Linked DNA regions of Homo sapiens: region 2 is linked to region 1. Evidence: fine-mapped expression QTL. Tissue or cell type: whole blood. Region 1 holds a variant in brackets; the other region holds the start of a gene. All regions are shown on one strand. Distances are from middle to middle. Region 1 has its middle 15 kb from the start of MDS2. Region 2 holds the start of MDS2 (myelodysplastic syndrome 2 translocation associated).

What was found. PIP is the estimated chance that this variant, and not a neighbour inherited with it, causes the effect. A credible set is the group of variants that fine-mapping cannot tell apart.
Region 2: it holds the start of MDS2, and the variant in region 1 is the best candidate, but not a certain one, in a credible set for the expression of MDS2 in whole blood (TOPMed, PIP 0.67).

Annotation. Positions count from the first base shown.
Region 1 is chr1:23,640,687-23,643,603 of GRCh38, forward strand. No RefSeq gene overlaps it. Among named protein-coding and RNA genes, the nearest start is that of MDS2, 15 kb to the left of the region's middle. The variant TA/T (reference allele first, on the strand shown) is at 1,700.
Region 2 is chr1:23,625,747-23,628,663 of GRCh38, forward strand. MDS2 (myelodysplastic syndrome 2 translocation associated) reads left to right here and starts at 1,588. Exons shown (of 6, transcript NR_167910.1): 1 at 1,588-1,791; 2 at 2,035-2,252; 3 at 2,761-2,851. RefSeq lists an enhancer at 42-161.

The sequences.
Region 1 (2,917 bases):
CAATTTATCTTTTTAAATTTTATTTTGTTTTATTATTTTTGGGGGATGGAGTCTCACTCAGTCACCCAGGCTGGAGTGCAGTGGCATGATCTCGGCTCACTGCAACTTTCGCCTCCTGAGTTCAAGCAATTCTCCTGTCTCAGCCTCTGAGTAGCTGGGATTATAGGTGTGTACCACCACGCCTGGCTAATTTTTGTATTTTTATTAGAGACGGGGTTTCACCATGTTGGCCAGGTTGCTCTCAAACTCCTAACCTCAAGTGATCCAGCTGCCTTGGCCTCCCAAAGTCCTGGGATTACAGGCATGAGCCACCGCACCTGGCCTGTGCAATTTATCTTTTTAAGTTTTTCCTGAAGTATAACAAACACAAAAACACACAAATCCTGTGTACAGCTCAATATACCTTCACAAAATGAACCCATCTGCATAACCTGCCTCTAGGTCAAGAAGTGAACATAACCAGCTCCCCAGAAGCCTCCTTGTGACGCCTCCTCATCGCTACCTCTCCCTGGAGGTAGCTATCATATAATTATTCATTTAGTTATCAATGTGGGTGTCATGTGTGTCCTCTATGGATTATTTTCTTAGGGCTGCTGTAACAAATTACTACAGCCTTGGTAGCTGAAAGCAACAGAAACTTATTCTCATGGTTCTTCCAGAAGTCTGAAATCAAGGTGGGCTGGGCGCGGTGGCTTATACCTATAATCCCAGCACTTTGGGAGGCTGAGGTGGGAGGATTGCTTGAGCCCAGGAGTTTGAGACCAGCCTGGGCAACATGGTGAAACACCATCTCTACGAAAAAATACAAAAAATAGCCAGCCTGTAGTCCCAACTACTTGGGGGGCTGAGGCAGGAGGATTGCTTGAGTCCGGGAGGTGGAGGTTGCAATGCGCTGAGATCACGCCACTGTACTCCAGCCTGGGTGATGGAGGGTCTAAGGGAAGATCCATTCCATGCCTTTCTCCTAACTTTTGGTGGCTGCTGGCAAAATCCTTGGCATTTTGTGGAGTGCCCCTGCCCTCCAGTCTCTGCTTCTGTCTTCACAAGGCCTTTTCGTCTGTGTCTCTGTGCACTCTTCTGTCTCTTATCAAGACACTCTCATTGGATTTCAGGCCCACCCTAATCCAGCATGATTTTATTTTGATACTTATCTTAATTACACCTGCAAAGACCCTGTTTTCTTTTTCTTTTTTTTTCTTTTCTTTTTTTTTTTTTTGAGATGGAGTCTCACTCTGTCGCCCAGGCTGGAGTGCAGTGGCACTATCTCGGCTCACTGCAAGCTCTGCCTCCCGGGTTCAGGCCATTCTCCTGCCTCAGCCTCCCAAGTAGCTGGGACTACAGGCGCCCGCCACCACGCCTGGCTAATTTTTTTGTATTTTTAGTAGAGACGGGGTTTCACCGTGTTGGCCAGGATGGTCTCGATCTCCTGACCTCGTGATCCACCCACCTCGGCCTCCCAAAGTGCTGGGATTACAGGCGTGAGCCACCACGTCCGGCCAACCCTGTTTTCAAGTAAGGTCATATTCTGAAGTTCTAGGTGGACATGCATTTTTGGGAGACACGCTTTCACCCACCGTACCCTACAAGATTGCAAGCCCCAGGAGGACAAGTGGTGTCACTCATCTTTGGATCCCCAGAACGAGCCTAGCCTCAGAACCTAGCCTGGCAGATAGGAGCTGCTCACAAAATGTGGGCTGAA[TA/T]GATGAATTATCAGTACATCTTCACATCAGGAGAACCAATGCTGTGTACCTGACACATGGTGGGTAGTGAGTAATTGATTGACAAGTGAATGACATTTAGACATCAATTGAGAGTGACTGCAGAGTATAGAAATAATGATAGGATGGCTGGGCGTGATGGCCATGCCTGTAATCCCAGGACTTTGGGAGGCTAAGGCAGGTGGATCACTTGAGGTCAGGAGTTCAAGACCAGCCTGGCCAACATGGTGAAGCCCTATCTCTACTAAAAATACAAAAATTAGCCAGGCATGGTGGCACATGCCTGTAATCCCAGCTACTTGGGAGGCTGATGCAGGAGAATCACTTGAACCTGCGAGGCAGAGGTTGCAGTGAGCCGAGATCATGCCATTGCACTCCAGCCTGTGCAATGAGCAAAACTCTGTCTAATAAATAAATAAATAATGATAAGATGGCCAGGCACGGTGGCTCATGCCTGTAATCCCAGCACTTTGAGAGGCCGAGGCAGGTGGATCACTTGAGGTCAGGAGTTCAAGACCAGCCTGGCCAACATGGTGAAACCTCATCTCTATTAAAAACACAGAAATTAGCCTGATGTCATGGCAGGTGCCTGTTTCCAGCTACTTAGGAGGCTGAGGCAAGAGAATGTCTTGAACCTGGGAAGCTGAGGTTGCAGTGAGCAGAGATCATGCCACTGCACTCCAGTGTGGGTGACAGAGCAAGACTATCTCAAAAAAAAAAAAAAAAGGCCGGGCGTGGTGGCTTATGCCTGTAATCCCAGCACTTTGGGAGGCCAAGGCTGGCAGATCACCTGAGGTCAGGAGTTCGAGATCAGCCTGGGCAACATGGTGGAACCCCGTCTCTACAAAAAACACAAAAAATTAGCTGGGCGTGGTGGCACGTACCTGTAGTCCCAGCTACTCAGGAGTCTGAGACATGAGAATTACTTGAACCGGGGAGGCGGAGGTTGCAGTGAGCCGAGATCATGCCACTGCACTCTAGCCTGGGCAACAGAGTGAGACTCCATCTCAAAAAAATAAAAATAAAAATAAAAAAATAAAAAGAAATAATGAAGGTGCTGCTCACTGAGCACTTACTTTGGCCCCCCTGTATTCTCTGCATGGTTCTATTTAATCCCATTTTACAGAAAAGTAGGGGATCATGTGTCCCAGTTTGGATGGGACAGATCCAGTTGGCACCTATTGTCCCAGCATAGGGAG
Region 2 (2,917 bases), 15 kb before region 1:
ATCTCTAGTAAAGGTTTTCACAGAGTGGGTGGGAGGAGGGTCTCCCAGTTTATACCTTACCTGCTCTGTGATGTTTCACCACCTGTAAAATGAAAATAATGAGAGTGGCCACCTCAAGAGGCTTTGATGATGAAATGGGACACAGCTTGGCAGCAGGGAGTAATCAATATAGGCTAGCTTCCATGCAGATGACAATTATGGTGATCAGGAGGAGGATGATAATGATAGGGATGATGGTGATGGTGATGATGATGGTGATGATGGGGATGATGGTGATGGTGATGATGGTGATGTTGATGGTGATGGTGATGATGGTGATGGGGATGATGATGATGGTGATGGTGATGGTGATGATGATGGGGATGATGATGATGGTGATGTTGGGGATGATGATGATGGTGGTGATGGTGATGATGATGGGGATGATGATGATGGTGATGATGATGATGGGGATGATGATGGTGGGGATGATGGTGATGGGGATGATGGTGATGGGGATGATGATGATGGGGATGATGGTGATGATGGGGATGATGATGGTGGGGATGATGGTGATGGGGATGATGGTGATGGGGATGATGATGATGGGGATGATGGTGATGGTGATGATGATGATGGGGATGATGATGATGGGGATGATGATGGGGATGATGAGGATTCTGTTGTGTGATATTGGGGGAGTCAGTGAATGACATTTTCCATGTCTGTCAAATAAGGGTGTTGGACCAAATGATCTGTGAAGGTCCATCGAGGTCTGATGTTCTAGAATTTTCTAGTTTAAGTGCTCTCTTCCTCCTTTCAGCCTGGGTTACCCTCTTCCCTGCAATTTTGGTGCTCCCTAGTGATGTGTGATGAGAGATGGAGTATTATAGTAGAGACAAAACTGATGTGGAGTCAGGAGGCCCGAGGTTCCAGCGGCACCATTTATAGTGGAGTCTTCATCATGGTGCATTTAACTTACACACATTTTTTTTTTCTCTTTGAGACAGGGTCTTGCTCTGTCACCCAGGCTGGGGTGCAATGGCGTGATCTCGGCTCACTGCAACCTCCACCTCCTGGGCTCAAGTGATTCTCATGCCTCAGCCTCCCAAGTAGCTGCGGTTATAGATGTGCACCACCACGCCCGGCTAATTTTTGTATTTTTCACAGAGACGGTGTTTCACCAGGTTGCCCAGGCTGGTCTCGAACTCCCGGCCTCAAGTGATCTGCCCACCTTGGCCTCCCAAAGTGCTGGGATTACGGGCGTGAGCCACTGCACCCAGCCTAATTTACACACATTTAAACACGCGTGTAAAGGGAGGGGAGAGAGAGAGAGAGCACGTTGTGCATGAATCACTGCTACAGAGTCACACTCCAATTCCACTTGGTGAGCACTCACCCCTTGAGAGGGAATGTGACCTGCCAGGTTCCCCCCGCCGGTCCAAGTTCCTGCACTTCCAGCCTCATGTGGGCTCTCATCATGCTGAGTGTGATCCTGCTGTTCAAATGGTTTTTATGTGGTGTGGCCCCAGATACAAGCCAACCATTTCACCTGTGGTGAGCGGAAGGCGCAGCTATCTATAACACCTGAGAAAAAAAGAACCTGCTGTACTAGCTGTCAGCTGCTGGAGACCTTGCTTTCTGTTTCACTGGGAAACAGAAGCAATCAGAAGGAAACTTCCTCAGACTCCACCTCTCCCTTCACTCCCGCCTGTATCCGTGCCTGTTACCTGGACGCCTTGTGGAACTTGAATTCTACGCCCTCCACTGGGACACTGCCCTTCATCCTCTCTCACCTCCTCCAGGACAACAGTGAGCAATTCCTTGCGTCTCTCCCACAGCTCCAGGGGTCCCCCTCTTCTGCTGGCTCATTCACATCACCACACAATCGGCTGCAGTTCTTCCAATTGTACACACACACACACACATGCACAAGCCCATGCACACACACCCCCACACCCACACCGTCATATTTCTTTGCTCCCCCTTCCAGGAAAACATCTCAGTGTTTTCTGAATTGACCATCTTCATCCCTCCTTCCTTTTCTCTCTCCAGCTCTCTCTGTGGGGCTTTCACCCCCATCGCTCCACTGAAACTGCTCTTGTCAAGGTCATCGATGACCTCCCGCTGACAAACTCAACTGTCCCATCTCTACACCCCAAACTGACCCATCAGGAATAGCATGAGCTCCACCTTCCAAAGCTTCCGCAATCTCACCGTCTCCACCGTTACTACCTGTGTCCGAGGCACCACTGTTTCTTGCCTGGAGTTGTGTAAGAGCCTCTCAGTGACGTTCCCTGCTTTCTTTCTTTTTTTTTTTTTTTTTTTTTGAGACGGAGTCTTGCTGTCGCCCAGGCTGGAGTGCCGTGGCGCCATCTCCTCTCACTGCAAGCTCCGCCTCCCGGGTTCACGACATTCTCTTGCCTCAGCCTCCCGCGTAGCTGGGAATACAGGCGCCCGCCACCTCGCCCGGCTAATTTTTTGTATTTTTAGTAGAGACGGGGTTTCACCGTGTTAGCCAGGATGGTCTCGATCTCCTGACCTCGTGATCCGCCCACCTCGGCCTCCCAAAGTGCTGGATTACAGGCGTGAGCCACCGCGCCCGGCCAATTTTTTTTTTTTAGACGGAGTCTCGCTCTGTTGCCCAGGCTGGAGGGCAGCTCGCTCCAAGCTCCGCCTCCTGGGTTCACACCATTCTCCTGCCTCAGCCTCCCGAGTAGCTGGGACTACAGGCGCCCACCACCACGCCTGGCTAATTTTTTTTATTTTTATTTTTAACAGAGACGGGATTTCACCGTGTTAGCCAGGATGGTCTCGATCTCCTGACCTCGTGATCCGCCTGTCTCGACCTCCCAAAGTGCTGGGATTACAGGTGTGAGCCACCGTGCTGGGCATCCCTGCTTTCATCCTAGCACTCCCTGCTGCCTTTATACCCCAT